Linked DNA regions of Homo sapiens: region 2 is linked to region 1. The links come from fine-mapping of genetic effects on gene expression. Tissue or cell type: whole blood. Region 1 holds a variant in brackets; the other region holds the start of a gene. All regions are shown on one strand. Distances are between the middles of the regions.

Region 1 (8,099 bases):
AGGCGGTCACATCACTTGAGGTCAGGAGTTCGAGACCAGCCTAGCCAACATGATGAAACCCTGTCTCTACCAAAAATATAAAAAATTAGCCCAGTGTGGTGGCAGGCGCCTGTAATCCCAGCTACTCAGGAGGCTGAGGCAGGAGAATCTCTTGAACCCAGGAGGCGGAGGTTGCAGTGAGCTGAGATTGCACCATTGCACTCCAGCTTGGGTGACAGAGTGAGACCCCATCTCAAAAAAAAAAAAAAAAAATTGCCTCTAAGCTAATATAATTTGTTCTATGCCTTGAACTAAATAATTTGAATATTTAGTTACCTGTAAGCTTCCTTTTCCTGTCGTTGTCAAAACCAAATAGGACTTATATTTCTGTTCGAAACATTTACTTATGTTTTGTTTTCCAGAGTCAAAAAGCTGTTTTTCCTTTTAAGCTATTTTATAGCTACAACAATTAAGTAAAAAATGAAGATTACCTCTCTTTTTCTACCTGATATCTCCAGAATCTGAAAATGATTTAAAATCCCATTGGCTCCAATCTGATTTGATATCAAACACCCTCCCTCTAGGCCCAGGGACAATTGCAGAAGAGGTAAACGCATGAGATTGTAAGGGCTGGTTTCGAGGGATAAAATTTGTTCAGACCCTCTGAATCAAAGATGGTTCACAAATACCTAAATAGCTGATAGCTCAATACATAAAACTTAGAGATAAGTCAATTTTGTAACCTCACGTTTTGGATTTTGGTTTTTGCCTCTTATGTTGCACAAAAGGTTGTTTTTTGTTGTTGTTGTTGTTTGTTTTATTTTGATTTTTTTGAGATGGAATCTCGCTCTGTCGCCCAGACCGGAGTACAATGGTGCAATCTCAGCTCACTGCAACCTCCGCCTCCCAGGTTCAAGTGATTCTCCTGCCTCAGCCTCCCGAGTAGCTAGGGTTACAGGCATGTGCCACCATGCCTGGCTCATTTTGTATTTTTAGTGGAGACAGGGTTTCACTATGTTGATCAGGCTGGTCTCAAACTCCTGACCTCGTGATCCACCCGCCTCAGACTCCCAAAGTGCTAGGATTACAGGCATAAGCCACCGCACCTGGCTGCACAAAAGGTTTTTAAGGGTGAATGAGTGCCTGCCCATCTCCTTTCCTATCTGTCCTAAAACATTTAATTAGCTGTCTTTCAGTCTTTTGGCTCTAAGTCTCTTGGCCATAGGGATCCCACCAAGGGACAAGATGGACCCAGTGCAGGTAGCACACAGCCCCAGCAACGATATAGGACAAAATAAAAGTTTGGTCATCAATGCCATCTCTGGCAAATCTTGGCCAAAAGAAGGGAATATAAACTAAAAATAAAATCCTAAACTCCTCACTGACTGAACGGATCCCCTCTTGGCCAAGGGGACCTCAGAAAAAACTTAAAACTGAGTTCCCAGCCACGATGGGATAGGAGAGCCCACTCATGTCGTTATAACTCCTCCCTTTGGTGACTTAGAGACAAGGCACTAGCATTTGCGTTAAAATATGTAAGACTGAAAACATAGAAGACTGAAAAACAGACTCTTTATGGCGATAACATACCAAATTATAAATAAGACCTGTGGCTGGGCATGGTGACTCACATCTGTAATCCCAGCACTTTGAGAGTCCAAGGCGGGCAGATCACTTGAGGCTGAGAGTTCGAGACCAGCCTGGCCAACATGGTGAACCCCCATCTCTACAAAAAATACAAAAATTAGCTGGACATAGTGGCGCATGCCTGTAATCCCAGCTACTTGGGAGGCTGAGGCAGGAAAACCACTTGAACCCAGGAGGTGGAGGTTGCAGTGAGCCAAGATGGCACAACTGCACTCCAGTCTGGGTGACAAAGTGAGACTCTGATTCCAAAAATAAATAAATTAATTAATTAATAAGATTTAGGGCCATGCCAGGCACAAGTTAAGTCCTACACCTCTACAATTAAAGAATAAACTCTATTCTCACTGCCACGAGGTTGTTCCTTTTCTCTAGCAGCTAAGTAAGTACTGACCTCAAGATAAACAATGTTAAAACGATTTGCAGCTCATCCAGCTCCAGATGCTAACTGACCCCATTCACCCACCATAACTAGCTTTCTCTTCTTTTGAAACAGCGTCTCACTCTGTCCTCCAGGCTAGAGTGCAGTGGTGCAATCCTGGCTGAGTGCAGCTTCAACCTCCCAGCCTCAAGCAATCCTCCCACCTCAGCCTCCCAAGTAGCTGGGCCTACAGGTGTGCACCACTAGGTGTACCAGTAGGTCCACCCGGGAGGTGGAGTTTGCACCCAGCTACTTTTTGTATTTTTGGTAGAGATGGGGTTTTGCCATGTTGCCTAGGCTGATCTCAAATTCCTGGGCTTAAACAATCCTCCCATCGTGGCCTCCCAAAGTGCTGGGACTACAGGTGTGAGCCACTATGCCCAGCCAACTACAGCTTTCATTGAACAAGAGACTGATTTCAGCAACTTTCTCCAGGTAAGACCACTGACTATGGATTGGTTCCGGCTGGTTCAGAGAGGCTGCATACTTGTGTGCTTTTGTGTCCTGGAAAGACCTTTTTACTATAAGGCCTAATTTTATTTTATGTATGTATATATTTTTATTTATTTGAGACGGAGTCTCCCACTATTGCCCAGGCTGGAGTGCTGTGGTGCCATCTCGGCTCACTGCAACCTCCGCCTCCTGGGTTCAAGTGATTCTCCTGCCTCAGCCTCCCAAGTAGCTAAGACTACAGGTGTGCACCACGGTGCCCAGCTAGTTTTTTTTTTATTTTTAGTAGAGACTGGGTTTCACCGTATTGGCCAGACCTCAGCCTCCCAAAGTGCTGGGATTACAGGCGCGAGCCACTGCACCCAGCCTATAAGGCCTAATTTTAGTACATTTTGATGCTAAGTCTCCACCCCAAGGTGAACATGAGTTGTATGTTACATGCATGTTTGTTCAGTATGCATGTTGTCAGGACCTTCATGAATATTCATAGCTCCTCCTATAACCTGTTGAATGTGTATGTTTAGCCAACCTGTTCAGCATGGAGCTCCTGCCCCAACCCCTCCTCCTTCAGAGGCACATTTTCCAGCCTGTGGGATGGCCACCTTGCTGGCTGTAACCCTTTATGAGAAAGAAAGTCACCCAGGCGCAGTGGCTCACACCTGTAGTCCCAGCAATTTGGGAGGCCAAGGCGGGCAGATCACTTAAACTCAGGAGTTCAAGACCAGCCTGGCCAACATGGCAAAACCCCATTTCTACAAAAAGTACCTGGGCATGGTGAAAGGCACCTATAGTCCCAGCTACCTGGGAGGCTGAGGCAGGAGGGTTGCTTGAGCCCAGGAGGCAGCGGTCGCAGCGAGTCATGATTGCATCACTGTACTCCAGCCTGGGCAACAGAGTATTTATGGATATTGTGGGGTTCTTTTTTCAATTAACAGTACAAATTCAGGAGAATCTCAGACAAATTATTAAAATTAATAAGACAGGGCTGGGCGAGGTGGCTCACACCTGTAATCCTAGCACTTTGGGAGGCTGAGGCGGGTGGATCACGAGGTCAGGAGTTGGAGACCAGCCTGGCCAACATAGTGAAACCCTGTCTCTACTAAAAATACAAAGAATTAACCAGGCGTAGTGGTGGGTGCCTGTAATCCCAGCTACTGGGGAGGCTGAGGCAGGAGAATCGCTTGAGCCCGGGAGGCGGAGGTTGCAGTGAGCTGAGATTGCGCCACTGCACTCCAGCCTGGGCAACAGAGACAGACTGCGTCTCAAAGGAAAAAAAAAAGTCTTTTTGTTCCTGTCTAGCTGCCCCACCCATTGTCTTCATGTTCCTGGAATATGTGTATAAAAAACAATGGATAGCCAATCAATAGCTTGTTATTTTAATGTAAATTTTTGGTAAACAATTCAGGAACTCCCCTTCTTTTCCTTTAAAAATCCTCTAGTAACCGCTACTAACTGGAGTGGATGTTCAGGGCAACTTGCATGCTCCGGGTTGCAGCCCTCAAGCTTGGCCCAAATAAACTCTCTACTTACATTAATTTTTCCTCAGCTTCTTCCTTTTAGGTTGCAAACCAAAAATAAAATCCTGGCCAGCCATGTTGGCTCATGCCTGTAATCCCAACATTTTGGGAGGCCAAGGC[G/A]GGTGGATTGCTTGAGCCCAGGAGTTCAAGATCAGCCTGGGCAGCATGGTAAAACCCCTTTTTAAATAAAAATACAAAAAATTAGCCAGGCATGATGGTGTGTACCTGAAGTCCCAGTTACTTGGGAGGCTAAAGTGGGAGCAATGCTTGAGCCCGAGAGGTCAAGGCTGCAGTGAGCTGTGGTTGCACCACTGTACTCCAGCCTTGGCGACAGAGTGAGACCCTATCTCAAAAAAGTTTTAAGGGCCAGGCACGGTGGCTCACGCCTGTAATCTCAGTACTTTGGGAGGCCAAGGTGGGCAGGTCACCTGAGGTCAGGAGTTTGAGACCAGCCTGACCAATATGATGAAACCCTGTCTCTACTAAAAATACAAAAATTAGCTGGGTGTGGTGGCGGGCACCTGTAATCCCAGCTACTTGGGAGGCTGGGACAGGAGAATTGCTTGAACCCGGGAGGTGGAGGTTGCAATGAGCCGAGATCACACCATTGCACTCCAGCCTGGGAGACGAGTGAAACTCCGTCTCAAAAAAAAAAAAAAAAAAAAGCTTTAAAAAAATAAATAAATAAATAAAAATCCTAAGCCCCTGGTGGACTGAACAGACCCCTTCTTGGCTAAGGGGACCCCAGAGAAACCTGAAAAACAGCATTCCTGGCCATGACAAGAAGGGAGGCTGGACATGTCTCGTTCTCCCCTCTCCCTTTTGGAGTTTAGGCACCACTGGCCAGCATCATTAAAATAGAGGTCGTGAGACTGACAAAACAGACTTTTTTTTTTTTTTTGAGACAGAGTCTCTGTTGCCAGGCTGGAGTGCAGTGGCGTGATCTCAGCTCACTGCAACCTCTGCCTCCTGGGTTCAAGCGATTCTTCTGCCTCAGCCTCCCGAGTAGCTGGGACTACAGGCGTGCGCCACCATGCCCAGATAATTTTTGTATTTTTACTAGAGATGGGGTTTCAACATGTTGGCCAGGATGGTCTCGATCTCTTGACCTCGTGATCCACCTGCCTTGGCCTCCCAAAGTACTGGGATTACAGGCGTGAGCCCCCGCGCCCTGCCAAAACAGACTCTTTATGGCAACAAGATACCAAATTCCAACCAGACCCTTGTATAGCACCACATGACAGATAGCAGACCCTGAAGGAAAGGAAAATATTTTACCTCAAAATATATTTCTTTATTTTTTTGAGATGGAGTCTCGCTCTGTCGCCCAGGCTGGAGTGCAGTGCCACGATCTTGGCTCACTGCAATCTCCACCACCAGGTTCAAGCAGTTCCCCTGCCTCAGCCTCCTGAGTAGCTGGGATTACAGGCGCCCGCCACCACGCCCAGCTAATTTTTGTATTTTTAGTACAGACGGGGTTTCACCATATTGGTCAGGCTGATCTCGAACTCCTGACTTCAGGTGATCCACTGGCTTCGGCCTCCCAAAGTGCTGGGGTTACAGACATGAGCCACCGTGCCCAGCCCCCAAATACATTTCTTTGACATATTTTGGAATGGCCCTGCAAAGCCGTCTTCTGTGGGGGAAATTTGCATCTGTAAAGAATCTCTATTAGGAGCCTGGCCTTTCCTTTCTAGGCGTTTCCCGGATTTAGGAGAAATTAAATGAGAGTCTAATACAGGTGGGTCTGATCTTTTTTTTTTTTTTTTTTTTGAGACAGAGTCTCTGTCGCCCAGGCTGGAGTGCAGTGACGTGATCTCTGCTCACTGCAAACTCTGCCTCCTGGGTTCACGCCATTCTCCTGCCTCAGCCTCCCAAGTAGCTGGGACTGCAGGCGCCCACCACCATGCCCGGCTAATTTTTTGTATTTTTAGTAGAGACGGGGTTTCACTGTGTTAGCCAGGATGGTCTCGATCTCCTGACTTTGTGATCTGCCCGCCTCGGCCTCCCAAAGTGCTGGGATTGCAGGCGTGAGCCACCACGCCCGGCCAGGGGGGTCCTATCTTGTGGAATCCCTAGGCCACGTTGGAAGAAGAAGAATTATCTTGGGCCATGCATAAAATACACTAACACTAACAATAGCTGATGAGCTTAAAAAAAATCACAAAAAAATCTCATTATATTTTAAGAAAATTTGTGAATTTGTGTTGGGCCACATTCAAAGCTGTGCTGGGCCTCTTGTGACCCATGGACCACAGGTTGGACAAGCTTGGTCTAACACCTTTAGGGTCTGAGAAGAGACATTCACCCTCTATTATCTCTAAGGCTGCTACTTGGAGGCTTCATCTACATAATAAGAACCTCGGTGTCCATAATCCCCTTATCTTAACTCAAGCATTTTTTTTTTTTTTTTTTTTTTGAGATAGAGTTTCACTCTGTTGCTCAGGCTGGAGTGCAGTAGCGTGATTTCGGCTCACTGCAACCTCTGCCTCCCGGGTTCAAGCTATTGTCCTGCCTCAGCCTCCCAAGTAGCTGGGATCACAGGCGTGTGCCACCATGCCCAGCATATTTTTGTATTTTTAGTAGAGATGGGGTTTCACCATGTTGGCAAGGCTGGTCTCGAACTCCTGACCTCAGGTGATCGCCCACCTCCACCTCACAAAGTGCTGGGATTATAGACTTGAGCCACCACACCCAGCCAACTCAAGCATTTCTTTCTACTGACTTCAAGTCTTTAGACAAAGCTTAACTCTTTCAACCAGTTGTCAATCAGAAATTCTTTGAATCTGCTTATGATCTGTAAGCCCCCCTCAGCTTCAAGACCTCCCACCTCTTTAGGCTGAACCAATGTAAACTTCCATGTATTGATTTATAATTTTACCTATATATCCTGTCTCTCTAAAATGTATAAAACCAAACTGTAACCCAACCACCTCGACTGCACTTTCTCCAGACCTCTTGAGACTGTTTTCTGGACCATGGTCACTCATTGGCTCAGAATAAACTTCTTTAAATATTTCACAGCTTTTTTTTTTTCCATCAACAAGGTTGACACAAGGTTGCTTGATGGAAAATTAATCTACAGAGTCAACTACTGTTCTAAATGACAGCAAAAAGCAGAAAACAAGTGTTTAAAAGATACCATTTACAGGCCAGGCGTGGTGGCTCACGCCTGTAATCCCAGTACTTTGGGAGGCCAAGGCAGGCAGATCACCTGAGGTCGGCAGTTTGAGACCAGCCTGACCAACATGGTGAAACCCTGTTTCTACTAAATATAAAAAGTTAGCTGGGCATGGTGGTGCATGCCTGTAATCGCTGCTGGTTGGGAGGCTGAGGCAGGAGAATCGCTTCAACCCAGGAGGTGGAGGTTGCAGTGAGCCGAGATTGCACCATTGCACTCCAGCCTGGGCAACAAGAGTGAAATTCTGTCTCAAAAAAAAAAAAGATACCATTTACAATAATTTCAAAATATATCAAATACCTGGAAATGGGGATGGATGCCCCATTCTCCACGATGTGGTTATTCCACATTGCCTGCGTCAAAACATCTCATATACCCCATAAGTATATGTATCTACTATGTACCCCCACAAATGAAAAATTAAAAAATACCTAGGAATATTCAGGACTTCACAAATACTTTATTTTATTTTACTATTATTATTTTTTTGAGACAGAGTTTTGCTCTTGTTGCCCAGGCTGGAGTGCAATGGTGCGATCTCGGCTCACTGCAACCTCCGCCTCCCAGGTTCAAGTGATTCTCCTGCGTCAGCCGCCTGAGTAGCTGGGATTACAGGCATGTGCCACCATGCCCGGCTAATTTTGGATTTTTAGTAGAGACGGGGTTTCTCCACGTTGGTCAGGCTGGTCTCAAACTCCCAACCTCAGGTGATCCGCCCACCTCAGCCTCCCAAAGTGCTGGGATTACAGGCATGAGCCACCGTGCCCGGCTGGCACAAAAACTTTAAATGGAGAAATTTTATGAATGGAAACCTCACTATTTAAATTTAAAAAAGATACCAACTATAGACATCTGACTAAAGTATGCACTTGAATTAATAATAATGTATCAATATTGGTTCATTAAT
Region 2 (8,093 bases), 48 kb before region 1:
CCCTTTTCTAAGAGAAGTTTAATGAACTTAGATCTGGGCATTTGCTTCCTCAAGTTAAATGCCTCACCTTCCCCTACCAAGGTGCAGTCTTCTGGAATATATTTTGTAAATGAAATATGAACCCACATTTGGGTTCATGGCTCAGGCTAGTAATTTAACCTAACTTTGCCTCCATTTTCACCTGTAAAGTAGACATAATCATCCCTACGTCATAGAACTGTTCCAGGATTCAGTAAAATGGTGTACATAAGGCTCTTGACACAGGGCCTGGCACATAGTAGGCACTAAATTATTGTATAATTAAAAACCTCTGCTCCTCCACCCTCCAGAGTTCTCTGTAGCCCAGCCTCTGCTTGGTGGAGACAGAAATTCATTTTCTTAAAAAGTTGTGCTGAGAGCTGGTCAGTCCTGGGGAAAGACACATGATAATGAAACTTTCAAGAAACTGATGTATAAACTTCAGTGCCATGATGTAACTGCTCTGCGCCTTAAGGCAGGATTCCCAACCCCTGGGCCTTGGACTGTTACTGGTCCGTGGCCTGTTAGGAACGGGGCCACACAGCAGGAGGTGAGTACTTGTGAGCCAGCATTCCCGCCTGCGCTCCGGCTCCTGTCAGATCAGCAGCTGCATCAGATTCTCACAGGAGCGCAAACCGTACTCTGAACTGCGCACGTGAGGGATCTAGGTTGTGAGCTCCTTATGAGAATCTAATGCCTGATGATCTGAGGCGGAACAGTTTCATGCCAAAACCATTATCTGCCCCCACTCATCCGTGGAAAAATTGTCTTCCATGAAACTGGTCCCTGTTGCCAAAAAGGCTGGGGACTGCTGCCTTAAGGGGCATTGTGGGTGAAGGAGGAGGAGGCAGCTGAGGCCCTGGCTCCTGTACTGGCTGGAGCCTGGCTCTGGGTCCTCCTTTAGATGTGAGCAGGTGGCTGCTTCACTGGTAGAGCTTGGGCTACACTGAGGTTTGCAGATGGAGGCTGGAGGGCAGGACAGAGGTGCAGAAGAGAACATTTATTCATTCAACAACTATGTATTGAGCACCCACTAGGTGCCAGATACTGTTGAAGGATGTTTAGGGATACCTCATGGACAAAGTGCTCTGCTCTCATGGAGCCGTGAGACAGCCCACAAGGAGGCTCAGGAAGTAAAACGTGAAGGTAGAGAGGTGAGTGATGGCCAAGGAGGCAAAGGCAGCAGCCTGCTCCTGATCACAGCCCCAACCTTTGCACATGCCCCCCTCCCTTACCAGAGCTGCGGGATCAGGTTCTATTTTTATCCTCCTGTGACAGGGGAGGAAACCTGGGTCGGGGAGATTAAGTGGCTTCACTTGGGAAATTCAGCAGTACCAGAGGTTAAAATTCCAAGAGCCTGAGCAGGAAGGGAGAGGATGATGGGCTGCTAGGGGCTGGAGGGGACTGCAGAGCCACCCCAAATCCCTTCTCAATGGCAGCCCTGCTGGCTTTCAGCTGTTTGCCACTGTGGCCCCTAAACTAGTCTTCAGAGATAGTAGCACAGGGGCTGAGATGCTCAAATGAGAGTTTCTGTCCTGTTCCCTTACAGATTCTGCTTCCTAGAGACTTCTCCAGCCTCGGGAAAGTTGGCTCCATGGAGCCATCCGGGCCACTCATGTGTGGGTGAGCAGCGGGAAGGGAAAGAAGGGGACCTTGGTGCTTCCATCAGAGCCAGTGCCCAGGGAGCGCCTGGGTTCCTGCCATACTCCTGGGGGTCACCTTAGGGCAGTGGGAGGCCCATAAGGGTTGGGGGCATTTGGTCAGCAGCCTCAGACACGCTGGCTGGTCAGGGCAGCCTGCTGTGTGCATGTACCTGGGTTCCTTGAGGTCAAGACCAGGCGGAAAGGCTTTTTGTTCTAGCCTTGGGAGGAGTGCAGTGGGGTCTGTGTAAGTGGTGAGGTGGCCATCCTGGTGGTCAGAGTGCTCAAGATACCCAAGGAGATGAGATGCAGACAGCAGGAATGGGTTGCAGCCTCCAAGGTGGCTAACACAGAAGCCTGTAGGTTGAGGAACTGCACCGGGGGTTTGGGGACACAACCAGGATGGTAGTTCTAAGGGAACTGCCTGCAGATCCTCACCTCTCATATTCCCCCTCCCCGACCTTCCTGCGCCTGAGGACTGCACTTTGTCCATTTTGCCAACTAGAAAGGCAAGGCTGGAACCTCGTCCTAGAGCCTTGCCCTGGAGTGTGAGAAGGTCCTGGGCTCCCAGCAGAAACAGAGGGACAGGATTGGGAAAGGTGTTGGCTTCCCCTGCAAACTCTTCCTAAGACCCCGGGGCTTTGGGTCTCAGCCGTCCTGCAAATTGGCTCTGTGACCTTGGGCAGGACCCTTTGCCTCACTGAGCCTGTTTCCTTACCTGTCAGCCTGGAACAGAACACCTGCCTTCTGGGTGAGCATGGGGATGAATTGTCTCTGTGCTGGCACTCACTTTGTGAATATTGCATAGATGTGTGCATTTCAGGCAGTGGAGCTGCTGCTCAACTTGGAACACACCTGGGGACCCCAGGGGCTTGGGGTGGGTGCAGCCCACACAAGGAAACTCGACCTTGCAGTTGGCAGGTTCAGCAGGCACCAAGGAACCTCGTTTTGTTTTTGACGTTTTTATTGGGGTCTAATGTACACAACGTGTAACCACCTTAAGTTACAGCTGGATTAAAATTGATTTATGTGGCCGGGTGCGTTGGCTCACGCTTGTAATCCCAGCACTTTGGGAGTCCGCGGTGGGCGGATCATCTCACGTCAGGAGTTTGAGAACAGCCCAGTCAACACGGTGAAACCCCATCTCTACTAAAAAATACAAAAATTAGCCGGGCGTGGTGGCGGGTGCCTGTAATCTCAGCTACTCGGGAGGCTGAGCCAGGAGAATGGCTTGAACCCGGGAGGCGGACGTTGCAGTGAGCCGAGATCGAGCCACTCACTACACTACAGCACTCCAGCCTGGGTGACAAGAGCGAAACTAACGTCTCAAAAAAAAAAAAAAAAAACAAAAACCAAAAAAACAACAAAACCCCCCCCCCCACAACTTGATTTATGTGTAAACCCGAGTCGTCATCACCCAAAACAAGATGCAAAACGTGTCCACGGGCTGAACCTTTCAAGATACAGAAAAAGGGCCAGGGGTGGCCCTCTCCCGGAATCTCAGGCTGGGAACCTGGTATCTAGTTCCCGCCCCTCACTGGGCAGATGGGGAAACCGGGGCTTGGGGCGAGAAGGTCCCCAGGCAGAGCTGGGAGCACCCCTAACTCTTCGCCAGCTCTGGGGACTTGGCGCCCTCTCCAGCAACAGCGAACTTGGGCGCCCGCGCCCCAGCAAGTCGGGTGGGGGAGATGGTGACACGGAGGGCGCGGCAGAGCGCGGCTCCTCCCCGGGCGGGGCCGACCTGCCCGCGCGCACCGACGCCCCGCCCCCCGCCCCGCGCGCGCGCTCCCGCCAGGCTAATTAGGCGCGCGGTTTGTTTACAAACACGGGCTCCCGGCAGGTGCGCGCCGCCCCGCCCGTGCGCGGCCGGGGTTCGAGGGTGGCTCCCGCGGGCCTCGGGGTGCCCGGACGGGGGCTGCGGTGCTGGCTGCGTGCCCGCTTCTTCCATGCCGTCCTGGGGCACCGGAAAATCCGCCGCCAGGCGCTGTCCCCGACACGGGGTGAGGAGAGCCGTGCGGGCCCGGGCGGGGAACGGCCCACGGGGTCCCAGCGTTGTTGCCCTGCCGGGCGGGCGCCGAGCCCCGCCCCCGCGCGCCCCCCGGGCCAGGCCCGCTCTCGGCCGGGTCGGCGGGGCGGGCGGGGGCCCCCGGGGCGGGGCGCGGCGCCGGCGGGGCCGGGACATGTAGTCCGCGCGCCCGCGGCCTCCCCTGGGCGGCCCCGGCGCGGGCCCGGCCGCGGACTACGACTCCCGCCAGGCGCCGCGGCGCAGCGCATGAGCCCTGCTCGGCTCCGGCGCGTCTATTATGCTGCCGGGGCCGGCGAGCCAAAGAGGAGCCGGCCGCGCGGGCCGGGAGGGGACGGCCGCCGGAGCCGCGAGGCCAAGTACGCCTTTCTCTTGCTTCCTTGCGCGCGCGGGGCGGCGGGCGGCGCGGGCGGCGGCGGGCCGGGCTGGGCCGGGGAGCGCGGCCCCGAGCGCCCCGCGCAGTCCGCCGGCGCGTCCGGGTGAACCGGGCGCCCGGGGCCGCCGCCGCCGCCGCCGCCTTTGTGCGCGGCCACGATGCAACAAAGCGCGGCGGCCGCCCGGGGTCGCGGCGGCGGTGGCGGCGGCGGTGGCGCGGGCTCCGCTCCCCTCCTCCCGCTCCCGCTTGGCCGCCTCCGTCCCGGACTCGGGGCGTCGCTGCGGCCGGGGCGCGCAGCCCGGAGTTGGCGCGGCCCGCGCGCCCCGCGCCAGCCCGGCCTCCGCGCGCCCTCCCTCACGGAAGGGATTTTTTTCCCCCTTTCCTCCGCCCGCCATCTTTCGAAGGGGGAACCCAGGGAGGACGCGGAGGGGGAAGGTGCGCGCGGCGGCCCCGGCCTGCGGCCGTGCGCTCCGCGGGGCCACTTTCCCCGCGCCTGTTCCGCCGGCCTCGCTCCCGAGCCGTTGCTGGGGCCCGCGCCTGGGGACCGTCGCCGCGCGCCGCGGCCGGGGCGGGGGGCAAGGCCGGGCTCGGCCCTGGGCTCTGCGCGGCCTCCTCCCAGAGTTACGGGCCCAGAGCTGACTTTGAGCCCCCCTGAGTTGCCGGATTATTGCACCCAAACCAGGGGGAGACCCAGTTCCCGTTTTGAAATCAGCCTGAAAATCGCTTAATCCGGGCGAGGGCGAGTTGGAGCGGGAGGGACGGGGGTGCTTCCCCTCCTTCCCACTTTTGGGGGGCGCCGGAGTGACAACGTGATACAAGCCCATCCGGGGAGAAATGCGCACCCCGAACCGTGTACACCCACATGGCCCTGGTGGGCTCTCTGTGAATAAAGCTGGGGCGTGCGGGAAGTCTTATTCCACCGGTTGCTCGTTCGGGGGCAGGGCCGGGATGGGGGCTTCGCGCGGCCTCCTTTCCCTGGAGGGCGAGAACTCGGCCCGCCGAGACCCACCGGGGGCAGGGACCCGGCGTCCATCGTGTGGGTTCCTCCGTTCGACCCAATCCTTGAGTGGTTGCGATCTTTAATTTTGGTTGAAAGCTTTCTGCTCAGAAATAGATACTGGGATTTCTCCCCCTTACATTAAACTTGGTCATTGTCTGCAAAAGTTAACCAGGAGGGGAGACTGTAGTGCATTGGTGGGCAGAGTAATTGGGCTGGAACTGCAAGAGGCAGCTTCGTGTGTCCCGTCCTCCCCCGCCCTACCCTGTGAGAAGGAACAGAAGAGGAAAAGAGTTTTCTTTTTACCCTGCTCTTTTGTAGGCTTTTCCCCTTACTCTTTTCTTTAAAATGGAGGGTTTTTTTTTTTTCCTGGGTCCATGTAGTATGCCTGGGGAGATCCTGGAATCTATGCAAAGTTGTATGGCATTTTTCTGGGGAAAGTAGTTTGTTACTGGCTTCCAACGGGGTCTAAGGAAGGTCTGAACCCCTGCAAGGGGCTGGCCTCGGGGGTTAGGGAGCCCTCCCTCCGGGTTCTTCCCTGGCAGCCCTGATGCAGCCTCTCATTTGCAAATAAAGGTCTGTGTTTGCCGTTTTCTCTGTTGAGGCCTTGATGGGTGCTGGTGGTTACTGATCATGAAAGATAAGGCACACGCTGTAACAGGACGGGCTGCAGGCGAGCGAGGGGCATTTCTTTCTGACCTTCCGGGTAGCCTCAGAGGCCCGGTGCCTCAGCAGGGCACCGGGTGCCTGGAAAGACTGTGGGAGCAGCTCCAGCCTGAGCCCTGCCGTTGGGACATCCGGGGAGGAGGGATTTCAAAAGCTTTCTCCGAGTGGGCAGTCACTCCATTTTTATTTTTGTTTTGTTTTTAGAAAGTAGAGTAATTACTTTCCTTTGACAACAGCTCGCGCCTGCTTCGGAAGTGAGTGAGCTTTGAATGAAGGACGGGACTTGCAAACAGTGCCTGCCCTACACTCCGAAGTAGTCATACCCAGAAAGTGAAAGTGGGGGTGTGCAGAGCGAAGCAGCCAGGCCTGCTGCAGCCGGTGCTACCTTCCTCTACCCTCTTCCTCCAGGCTCTGGAGATGCCAGCCGCGGGAGCCCTGTGCACCAGGCGGCAGTGATGGCCTTGTGCGATTCCTGGTGCCACCAGGAAGTGCCACCACTTTCCCTGAGGCATGGTGGCTCAGGGTTTCCCAAGTGGGGTGATTGGCACAAAACCAACAGCTATGCCCAGTTGTCGATGGGAAGAGCCATGTTTTGCTGTGGATACACACGGTACCGGGGCGGGGTATGGGGAACCGGGGCCTACTCTTCCCAGCGTTGCTGCCTGGGAGGTGGGGGCATGCCTGAAGTCGTGCTGCGGGTCTCTTGGTTTTCAAAGCAGTTAACGCAGTTGGTCAGAGGATCCTCCTCTTGCTTCCTTGACCGGTCATCAAAGTATAACTGACCTGACGGGGTTCCTGTCCTAGGCAGGTTCCTTTTTTTTTTTTTTTCTCTTCTCCTCTTGAGATGGAGTCTCGCATTGTTGCCCAGGCTGGAGTGCAGTGGCACGATCTCAGCCCACTGTAACCTCTACCTCCCGGGTTCTAGCAATTCTCCTGCTTCAGCCTCCCAAGTAGCTGGGATTACAGGCGTCCGCCACCACGCCCAGCTAATTTTTTGTATTTTTAGTAGAGACAGGGTTTCACTGTGTTGGACAGGCTGGTCTCGAACTCCTCACCTCGTGATCCACCTGCCTTGGCCTCCCAAAGTGCTGGGATTACAGGCATGAGCCACCGTGCCTAGCCAGCAGGTCCCTTATATCACGAAGCCAGTATCTGGTTGAAGCTAGAAGGTAACTGGATGAATCATGGTAGAATGCAAGGCTTCTTGCCGTAAAAGGTTTTGGAACTTGCGGGTCTGCCTTGGGCCTTCCCGACCCCTGTGGCTCCGCCCCCTTGTTGGAGCAGAAGAGATGCACAGGTAGCAAAGCATGATGGGGTGCCAGGTGCATTTGGGTCAGCGTTTGCCAAGAATGGCCTTGCTCCTGTGTTTTTGTTGGTACTGCCACCTTGTAGAGGTGCCCAGCTGGTGGCGGAGCATAGGGTTTTCTTTGCCTATTCTCCTTCCTGTGAAATCATGGGCACAGACATCATGGGCCCCTGTGCCCGGGCCTCCCTGCTCTGGTTCCTGGGCTCCTGCCATCTGAGAGGCTTGAGGGCTTGCTTATTTGTTTGTTTGTTTGTATTTTTAGTAGAGATGGCGTTTCACCATGTTGGCCAGGCTGGTCTCAAACTCTTGGCCGTGAGTGACCCACCCGTCTCTGCCTCCTGAAGTGCTGGGATTACAAGCGTGAGCCACCATGCTCGGCCAAGATGCTTGAGAGCTCATTTATTTATTTACTTATTTTGAGACAGAGTATCACTCTGTTGCCCAGGCTGGTGTGTAATGGCATGATTTCCCTTCACTGCAACCTCCACCTCCTGGGTTCAAGCAATTCTCCCTGGCTCAGCCTGCCAAGTAGCTGGGATTACAGGTGCCCGCCACCACGCCTGGCTATTTTTTTTAATTTTTTTTAATTTTTTAGTAAAGATGGGGTTTCGCCATGTTGGCCGGGCTGGTCTTGAACTCCTGACCTCAGGTGATCCACCCATCTCAGCCTCCCAAAGTGCTGAGATTACAGGTGTGAGCCACCATGCCTGACCGAGAGCTCTTTTAAAGAGAAAGTGTCACTTTGGGCCATTCACCTGTTGGTGGTTTAAATTGTAAGTCTTCTGGCCACTCCTGATTGAGCTCGCAGTGGAGCCAGGACCTGTGCGTGTGGCTGGAGGCTCGGACCCTGTTGTGTCCGTGCTGTTGGCTGTCTGCGTCTCGCACCAGTCTGTGGCTGTTCCCTGAGAGTCAGTTCGCAGGCTGCCTCCTCACAGGGCCTTCGGAGCCTGGTGTTGGGAAGATGGGGCGTGGAACATGCCCCCGCCCCCCTCCTTGCCGCAGGCCCCCAAGGTACTGAGTTCGTCAGAAGTTAATCCGGTATTGTGGGAGACAACTTTTCCAGCCAC

Evidence for each region. PIP is the estimated chance that this variant, and not a neighbour inherited with it, causes the effect.
Region 2: BRD3 starts here. The variant in region 1 is fine-mapped to the expression of BRD3 in whole blood (TOPMed, PIP above 0.99).

Annotation. Positions count from the first base shown.
Region 1 is chr9:134,015,665-134,023,763 of GRCh38, reverse strand. No RefSeq gene overlaps it. Among named protein-coding and RNA genes, the nearest start is that of BRD3OS, 5.8 kb to the left of the region's middle. The variant G/A (reference allele first, on the strand shown) is at 4,132.
Region 2 is chr9:134,063,892-134,071,984 of GRCh38, reverse strand. BRD3 (bromodomain containing 3) reads left to right here and starts at 3,959. Exons shown (of 12, transcript NM_007371.4): 1 at 3,959-4,040. RefSeq lists silencers at 3,354-4,083, 4,264-4,513.